Homo sapiens: one gene and its partners. The protein of the gene in region 1 interacts with the protein of each later gene in a biochemical or structural test. Each region holds a gene or a part of one and is shown on either strand. Other genes may lie near its edges. The genes, in order: NOSTRIN, HTRA3 and FRMPD4.

What was found.
Region 2: the proteins of NOSTRIN (region 1) and HTRA3 interact in a test that uses a peptide from one of them, tested with the Homo sapiens proteins (one large-scale study listed by IntAct).
Region 3: the proteins of NOSTRIN (region 1) and FRMPD4 interact in a test that uses a peptide from one of them, tested with the Homo sapiens proteins (one large-scale study listed by IntAct).

What each region holds. Positions count from the first base shown.
Region 1 is NC_000002.12:168,847,515-168,851,165, reverse strand, and holds part of NOSTRIN (nostrin), read right to left. Parts: intron 331-3,651; coding exon of another isoform or gene 160-330; intron 83-159; coding exon 1-82. UniProt on the Homo sapiens protein: Multivalent adapter protein which may decrease NOS3 activity by inducing its translocation away from the plasma membrane.
Region 2 is NC_000004.12:8,304,025-8,307,598, reverse strand, and holds the end of HTRA3 (serine protease HTRA3 isoform 1 precursor), read right to left. Parts: intron 3,416-3,574; coding exon 3,320-3,415; intron 1,629-3,319; coding exon 1,463-1,628; 3' UTR 501-1,462; downstream 1-500. UniProt on the Homo sapiens protein: Serine protease that cleaves beta-casein/CSN2 as well as several extracellular matrix (ECM) proteoglycans such as decorin/DCN, biglycan/BGN and fibronectin/FN1.
Region 3 is NC_000023.11:12,704,874-12,708,524, reverse strand, and holds part of FRMPD4 (FERM and PDZ domain-containing protein 4), read right to left. Parts: intron 1,700-3,651; coding exon 1,610-1,699; intron 1,057-1,609; coding exon 874-1,056; intron 1-873. UniProt on the Homo sapiens protein: Positive regulator of dendritic spine morphogenesis and density. Required for the maintenance of excitatory synaptic transmission. Binds phosphatidylinositol 4,5-bisphosphate.

The DNA of each region.
Region 1 (3,651 bases):
CAAAAAGAGAAATATGTTGGCTGTACTGGTTTAAGTTATTGCATAAAAGTTGAATTCTTTCCTTCTCCAGCTCCAGAATGCTCTGAAAAGAATGAAAATTGGGGTAAGATCAGCCAGTTGTTATGCAAAATGGAAGTCACTCATCAAACACTGACACACCTGAAGACAGACTGAACAAAGTCTCATGATTAGCCTCTTGACTATGTCATATCCAAACCATAGTGGAGGGAGATTTCCAGGAAGGAATGTGTCTTGGTATCTTAAATCACTCACACACTTTCCCCAGGCTCTTTTGACCCAAAAGGCATATAGGCAGATGCTGTGGGTTACCTAAGTTTATGAGGAAGGGGGAGAAAAGAAGAAAAGGAAGCATTTGAGACACAATCATGGATTCCAGAGAATTCCAGAGAATTTCAGTAGAGATGGGGTTTCACCATGTTGGGCAGGCTGGCCTTGAACTCCTGACCTCAGATGGTCCACCTGTCTTGGCCTCCCAAAGTGCTAGGATTACAGGCATGAGCCACCGCGCCTAGCCAGGCCTTGTTTTTACAAAAAAAAAAAAAAAAAAATTGGGAAGAATTCCAGAGGGTGAAGCCCAGGAAAGCCCATATCCATGTCTTGGAAATGCATTGAGACACCCAATAGTTTTAGAATTGTTTATAGTACATTCAAGGCGTTCTGCTAGTCTGCAGGGAAGAGAATGACAGGCCACAAATTCTCTGTTTAAGGAGGTTATTTGACAAGAGAAGAATCCCAAAGTCTGACCAATTTATAATTCTGCCTAAAATTAGGCCTGGGAGTCAGAGTCCGCTGTTTGCAGGTAGACACATAGCCTCTTTATTTTGTGTGAGATGACAGAAGTTTCATTATTAGACTTATGACTTTTAGGTAGGAAGGGTAAATAAGAAAGTGAGGGGAATCACATTTGCTTTGTTAGCTATTAACATTTTAGAGGCCGGGCACAGTGGCTCATGCCTATAATCCCAGCACGTTGGGAGGCCAGGGTGGGAGGATCACCTGAGGTCAGGAGTTTGAGACCAGCCCAGCCAACATGGTGAAACCTTATCTCTACTAAAAATACAAAAATTAGCCAGGCATGGTGGCACACGCCTGTAATCCCAGCTACTCAGGAGGTTGAGGCAGAATTGCCTGAACCCAGGAGGTGAAGTTTGCAGTGAGCCGAGATCATGCTACTGCACTCCAGCCTGGGTGACAAAAGTGAAACTGTCTCAAAAAAAAAAAAAAAATGAGAAAATGTTACTTATTGGACCCATGCCAACTGAGTTGCTGACTGGTGGTTTTACAGGGGGCAGAAAGCTTTAGCAACTAAGCATTCTTAGAGAAGGCTGGCTCAGGCAGAGTATTCAGGGAGACTCCAAGGCCATGTGGGGGCAGTGTAAGGCTGCTGGGTATGTGCCCAGGGGACTTTGGGCTTTGATGGAGATGGCAGGTGTCCAAGACAAAATTCTTCCCATCTTTTTTTTTTTTTTTTTTTGTAAAAACAAGGCCTGGCTAGGTGCGGTGGCTCATGCCTATAATCCCAGCATTTTGGGAGGCCGAGACGGGTGAACTACCTGAGGTCAGGAGTTCAAGGCCAGCCTGCCCAACGTGGCAAAACCCCGTCTCTACTAAAAATACAAAAATTAGCCAGGCCTGGTGGCGGGCGCCTGTCGTCCCAGCTACTCAGGAGGCTGAGGCAGGAGAATCGCTTGGACCTGGGAGGTGGTGGTTGCAGTGAGCTGAGATCATGCCACTGCACTCCAGCCTGTGCAAAAGAGTGAGATTCCATCTCAAAAAAAAGAAAAGAAGAAAGAGAAAGAAAGAAAGAAAAAATACAAGGCCTGGGCATTCATCCTTTTATCCAGGGAAGTCCAGCTCAGTTGCTCTCATACCCACCATCCCAACTCCTGCATCCCACAAAGAGCACCAGCAATCATCTTTCATGAACAAGGCTTTGGAGAAGTTGGTGGGTAACACGACCATAGGGAAGAAGAAAGATGGGTATGTCTCAAGGCCCTTGGCAGTGCAAGAGAGGTGAGAATGGAGAGTCACAAAGATCACTGGGTTCTCCTTGCTCACCTCTTGAAATTCCTACAGGAGCCCATTGGCCTGATTCAGTATGGTATTCCTCTATATCCCTGTGTTGTTAATTCATCTATGGTATATGGTGATTAAAATTATTTTAAATTTCTTTATACTTTTAATTATGGTAAAATTTACATAATATGACATGCCATTTTATCCACCTTAGGCATCCATTTCAGTGTCATTAAGTGCATTCACATTATTATGCAAACACCACCATAATTCATCTCTAAAACTTTTTTCATCTTGCAAAAGTAAACCGTACCCATGAAACAACGACTTCTCATTTCCTACGCTCTGCATCCCCTGGCAACCACCATTCTACTTTCTGTCTCTACAAATTTAACTACTCTTGATACCTCTTACAAGAGGAATCATACACTACTTGTTCTTTTGCATCTGGCTATTTCACTTAGCATAATGTCTGCAAGGTTCATCCATGTTGTAGCATGTGCCAGAATTCCCTTCCTTTTTGGCTGAATAATATTCCATGGTATGCATATACCACATTTTGTTTTTTGGTATATAGTCATTTGAACACTGCTTGCAAATGAAAGTAGTAAAAGGCTCAGGCAGTAACTATGAACATCTGTGCCAATCACATGCAACTTTAGCTTTTGTATCAAGTGTCCTGACATTTGGATTGGAAGCCTGGAGCCACGCCCCCATGGCAATCTTCTTAGTTGCCTCTGAAGCTGCCCAATTTTCATATGTCAATGGGAGTCAAATGGATTGGTTTACGCTGGCAGTCCCCTGAGGCTTTCACAAAATTGCAGGCACCAGTCATTTGAATGTGGCCGTCTGCCCTTCTGTCTCCCAGATAAAGGATTAAAGACACAGAATAGCCTATCAAATGTTTTGCTTCTTAAAAGGCAGAATCGATATGCCTCATAACAAATACGTAAAACAAATTCTGCTCAGTTGTTTGGATCTCCTATGTGACAATCTTCAAAAAGAAGAAGTCCTTACCCTATAGAAAAAGATCTAGAAATCAGCTCTTCTGTTTTAGCCTATGAGCAAGAGAGAAGAGAAAATAAAAGCCAGGTTTTAGAACATATTGCATCCCTAGTGGGCAGGTGTTTCTTTACTTTGACAAGTGCTGAACCACTAGCATCAATCTGAGACTAGAATAACCAGTGTTCCTTAGTGACATGGTAATGCTTAACAGATTTTAATTACATTTCAGGGAAATCATTAAAATGATCTATGTTTGCTCATAAGAAGAGGAGGAAATAAATTCCACTGTGCAAAGGAGAGATCCATATCTAATGATTTTTTGCTTTTTATTATCTTGTTCTTTTTATATAAAATAGGTGGTAGAGAAGCAAGATACTCTGGAGGACCTCAAACTGTCCTCTTGAGGTTCCACAATAGTATATATGAACAAAGTGTGGTCAAGGAGTTATCCAGAAAGATTCAGATTTCAGCAGATTTAGAGCCTGTCTGGGGCCCAAGCATCATGACAATTTGTTCTTCATTCGTTCCTTCCAGTTCTTGCTGTCCTAGCCTTTGGGCTGGTACTACAGGAAGAAGTCAAAGGGATTTTGTTTTCATTTAAATGACTCT
Region 2 (3,574 bases), on another chromosome or scaffold:
AAATTGCTCTCTGCCTCAGTTTCCCCATCGCTGGATGGGTGGCAGGGAGGGTGAAATAGATGTGAGAAAGGGTTCTTCATGTGACCAGACGTGCACAGTGGGGCTTAGTGGGAGCTCCCCGTAAGCCGGGTGGCTTCCCAAGTGCTGCATCTGTCACCTTGCATCCCAGGGCATCCAGGAGGTCAGCACAGCAGAGCCAGCCTTCCTGCTGGACAGAGGCAGAGGCCAAGGTAGGGAGGGGAACATCTCTTGCCCAAGACCACGAAGCCGGAAGTAAGCGGAGGAGCCAGGACTTGAGCCGGGCTGCCTGACTCGGAGCTGGCCCTCCACAGCGCCACATGACCCCGAGACCTGGTGTGCCCCAGTGCTCAGCTGTCATAGAAACCCTTTAAAGGCCCGTGTCTTTGCAGGTATGCCCAGTCATGTGTTAGATGGGTCCCCAGGAAGAACCCTGGCCAGTGGTGGGTAGGCTGCCCCAGTGCCCTGCTGGCTGAGAACCGTGTGCTTGTAAACTTTATTTTCCATACAGTAGAGAAACATACAGTACAAGCAACACTGGGAATCCATTTACAGCAAAGCTCACAAATGCCCCTTGAGACACACTCGTTCCCTGGATGAGGGGGTGGTGCCCAGCAGCCTGCATGCCTCTGGGCGGCACTTCCATGCGAGCGGCTGCTGCATCCCAGAGCTGCGTGGGAAGGGGAAGCCGGCTCAGTCCTCACACCCCGCAGCTCCACGTCCACTGTCCTCTGCAGGCTGCCCCATGGCCGCCTTGGGGAGGAGAAGCTTCCCCAGGCAGCAGCCAACTTTCCACGTGCTCCCCGCGGCCTCCTGCCTGCCTGGGGAGGAAAACCTCATGGCAGGGCGGGGCTCAGCTCCGCAGCCAGGGGGCATTCACTCAGTGCCTGCTCTGGGCTGGACCCCACCCCCGCACCCCAAAGGGATCAGATGTGACCTGTCCTCCAGGGACCCCAGGCTGGCAGGCAGCAGCCCTGGCCCTACAGCTTGGTAAGTCCTAGGGCAGAGGGAAGCTGGGGCCTCAGGTCAGGTGGGCGTTTGTCAGGGGGGAAGAAGCTTGGCAGCCCAGACCTGCAGTAGGAGGGGCAGGAGCAGGGGATACTGCAGATGGGTGTTCACAGGGGCAGAGGCGGGAAGCTAGGAGAGGAGGGGACCTCCATGGAAGGCAGTTTTGTGAATATCCGGAGAACTTGGAAGTGACTTTCAGGATCATCTGTACAAGGGGATGTTGGGCTTCCCTCCCCGGCACCGGGATGTGGATCCAACACTCCCCAGGCGGAAATTCGGGCCCCTGGCCAAGCCCAGCCTCCGCTCTGCCCCGGACAGCCAGGAGGAGGCTGCCGCCCTGCTGAGGACCGACGGTGGTCCTTCGTCCTGATCTCGGGGGGGCGCTGCCCTCCGTTGTCTGCAGGCTCTGACGCTTGGCGCTGGAGGAATGCGCCCCTCACATGACCACCTCAGGTGCGATGCTGAAGAGGAGGTCGTCGTTCCCCCGCCGCACCTCCAGTAGGAGAGGAGACTCGGTCAGCACGGCCTCCTGCAGCTCACTCGAGTCCACTAGAGGACGCCCGTTGACCTTGACGATGATGTCACCATCTTGGATGCCGCCTCTGCCAACAGGAGAGACGGGGTCACCACCCACCGCCTCCCCAGGCACAGCCTTCCCAGGCCCGGCCCAGAGCGAGGCACAGTCAGGGTCAATGACAACATTTCAACAAAAGTCATCTCGATGGGAAAGAACAGTGCCCCAGCCCCAAAGCTCTCACACCAGAAGAAAACCAATGTCACACGACAGGGAAACAACCTTTCAAACTGCTTCTCCCATGCGTCAGAAGGGTGGGTTCAAGCTCCCGCTGCAGCCCTCCTAGCTGGGCCAGGCACTCTGTCCCCTTGTGCCTCAGTTTTCATGTCTACCATCCTATGTGGAAACGCACTTTGCAAATTATAAAGGCCCAGGAGTAGGTTCTGCTGTTACTGCAGTTACGAAGACGTCTATGTGGGAGGCAGAGCTCACGGGGCCAGCCTTCTCTCTGCATGAGGCTCACTGAGACCTCCCCACTGCTGGGAAGGAAGGTGATGGTACTGTGCTCAGCTGCGTGGGCACCAGCATCAGGACCCTCACATGCCAGCTGTGTGACCTGGAAGAGTAACTTCTCTAAACCTCAGTCCCTCCACCTGTAAAATGGGTGAGGGCAGGAGCCTGCACCTCCCTGGCTGCAGTGAGGATTAACTGAGATGTGTGTGGAAAATTTCACCCAATTTCAACAATTTTTACTGCAGGCCTGCTGCGGGCAGGACAAGTGTGCCATCTGTGCTCATCACAGAAGTTCACGCGGGGCCTCCCACCTTCAAGCCCAGCCTCTGAGGATGCACAGTACAGTCGGCCCTTGAACAACATGGGTCTGAACTGTGTGGGTCCACTTATATGTGGATTTTTCCCACTGCAGATGAAGACCGAGGCTAAGGAGGGGAGGCAACTGGTTCAGAGCCCTTCTTGGGAGTGGGTCAGCCATGCCAGCATGTGGTAGTGTCGCTGCACGCCTGCCTCAGCCTATGGTGTTGCAATGCTTAACATTTCTCTAGTACTGGAAGACTTCAAAGAAAGCAATCCTTTATCCATTTCATCTACAAAGTCTCCTGGGGGTAGAAATCCCAGCACTTTGGGAGGCCAAGGCAGGTGGATCGCCTGAGGTCAGCAGTTCAAGACTAGCCTGGCCAACGTGGTGAAACCCCTTCTCTACTAAAAATACAAAAACAATTAGCAGGGCATGGTGGTGGGCACTTGTAATCTGAGCTACTCAGAAGGCTGAGGCAGGAGAGTCGCTTGAGCCCAGGAGGCAGAGGTTGCAGTGAGCTGAGATCGCGACACTGCACTCCAGGCTGGGCAACAAGAGGGAGACTGTCTCAAAAAAAAAAAAAAAAAAAAAAAAAAAAAAACAATAGGCTGAATTATCTCCACTTTACAATGAGGAAGCTGAGTCCCAGAAAGACCCAGGACCCAGGCTGGTCCCCAGCTAGTGAAAGAGTCTGGCTTGGAGTGGGTTCTTAGCCCAACAGGGACTCTTCAGCCTCTGCTTCTCGAAGGAAATGACATTGTGGGACTTAGGACGTACACAGTCAGGGCTCTAGGGACCATTCAGCTCTCCAGCCTCCTCTGGCTTAGCAGACACGCTAGAATCCACCTGCCCCTTCCCGGTCACTTTGCTGGGAAGCTCAAGGTCACATGAGGTCAGTGGGGCAGCCCCAGCCCAGACCTCACGCCTGCCCCATGCCTCGAGCGATCTCCTCTGGCAGAGCCTACCTCTGAGAAGGTGAATTCGGCGCAACCTCTTGCACATAAATTCCACTGCTGACCTCTGGGAAGTCCGGGTTGCTGGCCTTCAGCTCATCCACCAGGCTGGAAAGAGTCTGCCGTCAAGGCCCCTCCCCTGAGCCTTTGCCCAGCTCTTTGGTATGAAGCTGCCCCTCCCTCCCTCCAGCACCAGACCAGAAGAGGAGCCACCTCTGGGCCCCCATACTGCCCTGTCCCACCACTGGCCACTCTGTGTCCCCTACC
Region 3 (3,651 bases), on another chromosome or scaffold:
GTAGAGTTTTGCCCTTTGTGGACCATCTCAGATTTTTGTGTTTTTTTTTTTTTTTTGAGATGGAGTCTCGCTCTGTTACCCAGGCTGAAGTTCAATGGCACGATCTCGGCTCACTGGAACCTCCACCTCTGGGTTCAAGCAATTCTCCTGCCTCAGCCTCCTGAGTAGCTGGGATTACAGGTGCACGCCACCACGCCCGGCTAATTTTTGTATTTTTAGTAGAGATGGGGTTTCACCATGTTGGTCAGCCTGGTCTTGAACTCTTGACCTCGTGATCCGCCCGCCTCGGCCTCCCAAAGTGCTGAGATTACAGGCATCAGCCACCGCACCTGGCCAGATTTTTGTTTTAAATGGAATGGCCATGACATTCATAGGAGCCAGATGTTCAGTCAGTACCAATTGCTACCATATGAGAAGACAGATGAACTAAAACATCAAGCTTTTCCAAAAGAATAAACACATATGGACCTAACGTAAGCAAAGGGAGTGAGAATTCTAAAGAAAGTTGGGAAAAATCTCCCTCTTGATTTGAGTCATATATTCTAGAAAGTTAGTTCAGAAAAGTTTCCCCTACTCTATACCTAGAAATCACATATTCTAAAGTCAGAAGGGACCTAGAAATTATGTAGCTTGCTTTCTCACGTATGAATAAAAAAATTGAGCGCAGAGAATTATAGCGACCTGTTCCCAATCACACAGCGATTTAGTGAGGACTGGAGCCCTCAGGCCTGAGTTGGTGGATTATTTTCTGCACCACATTGCATCTGTGATGCTCTGCACACATTGACTTTTGCCTGCCTTGTAAACATCTGCAGTGTTATCAGAAATTAGCTGTTGACAGCAAGGCCATGTGTCAACACCTGAGAAACTTGCCTTCACATCTAGCACGTGGAGTTCTACCCGCACCAAGCTCTCCTCCTCGGAAAACATTTCGATCCTGTTGACGTGGCTAAAGTCGGCTAAAAGAGCCACCAGATTGGTTTTGGTGTTGATGACATGGCTTATGCCATACCGGGGCCCAACCAGGAGAGTCACTTCCGAGCGCTTTTCTGCCTGCTGAGAAAGAGAAGTTGACAACATAAAAATACTGAACCTCTGAAATGCTATGCCAACTTGAACCTATGATCCTATTTTTATAAGATTATATTTTCTTTAGAAAGTGTTTCTGGGTCATACTGTACTAAATCATCCAATTAGAAGAACCAGATACATGACTGAATTGAGGCTCTGATAAATCATGAGTAATTAGAAAGTAAATGTTATAGCACAGTATGTTCATAATCATAAGATCCTTTTAGAAATGAGGTTTGTTTTTTTCTTTTTGGTTTTCCTTTTTTCACTGTGAAAGCAACTTCTGGCTCAATGATTTAAAAGAAGGCCATTGTTAGAATCCTTTGATTCTCTCGGTTCTTCACATTTCTTTTTCTAGGGCATTCTGCAGTGGTGTTATCTAGTTTAACATTTCTTCTGATATTTTCAGACTGTTGTGAAGTTGGTTAGAAATGAAGGCTGGAGAAGATTCACAGCTGATTTGCTTTTGTCATCAGAGGCGGAATGAGCTGCTGTGGCTTCCAAGAGAAAGCAAAAAAAAAAAAAAAAAAGAAATTACCACTAATGTTGCCTTGAACACACGGCCCCCATACAATCGTAGGTCACTGAGGAACTTGAGATAATGGACCTTGGCTTGTAGTGCAGAGAGCTGAGGAGAGAAAAGAAACCTCAGGTGTTAACTCTATTGGGTATGACTCCATTTCAGCTGGAGACTAGCAGAAAACAAGTGTAAGATAGAAGGATGATTTTACGGCTGAAAAGTTGAGATGTGACAAAGACTATTCATTAGGAATAAAATTGCTACATATTTGGTTTCCTGATGAAGGACTGGAACATAAAATCAAGATTCAAATCTTATTTATTAGGGGGTCAATGTATGGGGCACTCATGGGTATAGATATGCTGGGCCAGGGCACTCAGCAAGTGAGAACAAGACCATAAAATGTTCCATTGAACATCTGCTCACTGGGAGATTTCAAGAGGTGAGTGGGCCTTCTACTTGCAATTAGGGACAAAGGTGAGGTGTCTACCTATATTCCCATTGCACAAGAGACTCACCTGAATGCAGACTTTGTGGGAATCATTTTGAATACGCACCTGCAATCTAGGCAAAGCCTTCTAAACAGGCCCTTTACACTTCCCCTCTCAAGTTTCTTCCAGTCCTTGCAAGTTTTCGGGGGAAATGAACTTTCTGAGAGCCAATCATTGTGGAAATGTTTGAACTTGCTAAATAAGGCTCTGTTTTATTAATTCAACTTGGAAAATCTGTTGAGTTTCACAAGTGATTTATAAATGAAATTTTATCCAGATAAAAGTTATCTTTACAAAGACTTAAAAATGTAGGATCCCATATCACTAAAAAGAGTATTTGATTTAAAAAAAAAAAAGGTCCATGTTTCATACTGAATGTGCCAGGGATGTTTATTAAGGTTGAAATTTTCCAACAAGGTGTAGACCACCATTAAGTGGCAATGACCATAAAATTCTATTTTCACTTGCAGATGGCTTGCCAACTTATTTGTTAACTATACATAAAGGCACTGCTCTTTATGTAATTGTTACTTAGCACCATTCATCCATCCTACTTCTTTCAAAAATGCAAAGCATTTGCAAATTGTTTTGAAAGCAAACTATTCACTCTTGGCTAGAAAAACAACCTTTAAAGGACAGTGATGGATAAATGGATAGGTTGATTGATCTTATAGCAGTTATCCAAATTATTACGAGTGGGCCAGGCTTGAAAAAAAAATCACAAGTCAATTATAGAAATTAGCTTCCAGCAAATCAGAACTGAAGTTAAAAAGAACTTGACCCACATCATCTTGCTACATCTCTGTAAGCTGAATGCTCACTGTGATCAAAGACATCCTTCCCATGAAATTGGGAAGTGAGTTAAAGGTGGCTGATAGTGTGTTGAAACTGATTATACTTAAAAAAAAAAATTGTCGTGGGGTGAGGAGGGGATAGAAATAAATGTACCTTACCCAGTAAAAATGACTTAAAAAAATCAGATACTAAGACAAAATGGTTCTCCACGTAAACAGTGATTTGTATTAGAGTCACACAAATTTCTCCAGCTAATATCAATTGGAAAGTGTTCTTCAGTTATAAGACTGCTTCCAATTTTATAGATCCAGTATTTTAAGGCTCCTTCTCTTTCTGGTTCCTGGAATCCTTTGCTTTTTATTACCTATAAACTATACCTCTCTTTTCTGACCAACAGTATATTTTAAAATTTCCTTTGTGTTTCTCTTACTTAATGAAAACAAAAACAAAAGCATAAAAAGATTTTAACACTAATGATGGTGAATGACAGCAATAATTTTATCTTCCCTCCAAAGGTAGGATTGAATCCATTGTTTGTCAATAGGGGTGATTTTGTTCCCGGGAGCACATTTGGCAATGTCTGGAGACATTTTTGTTTGTCACGATCACGGGAGGGTGCTACTGGCATCTTGTGGGTAGAGACCAGGGGTGCCGCTAAACATCCCAGAATACACAGGATGTTCCCCGTAACTCCCTAACAAAGAATGATCTGTTCCCAAATGTCAATTACGCCACAGTTGAGGATCCCTGGTTTAATTAATGTGGCCTCTGGCC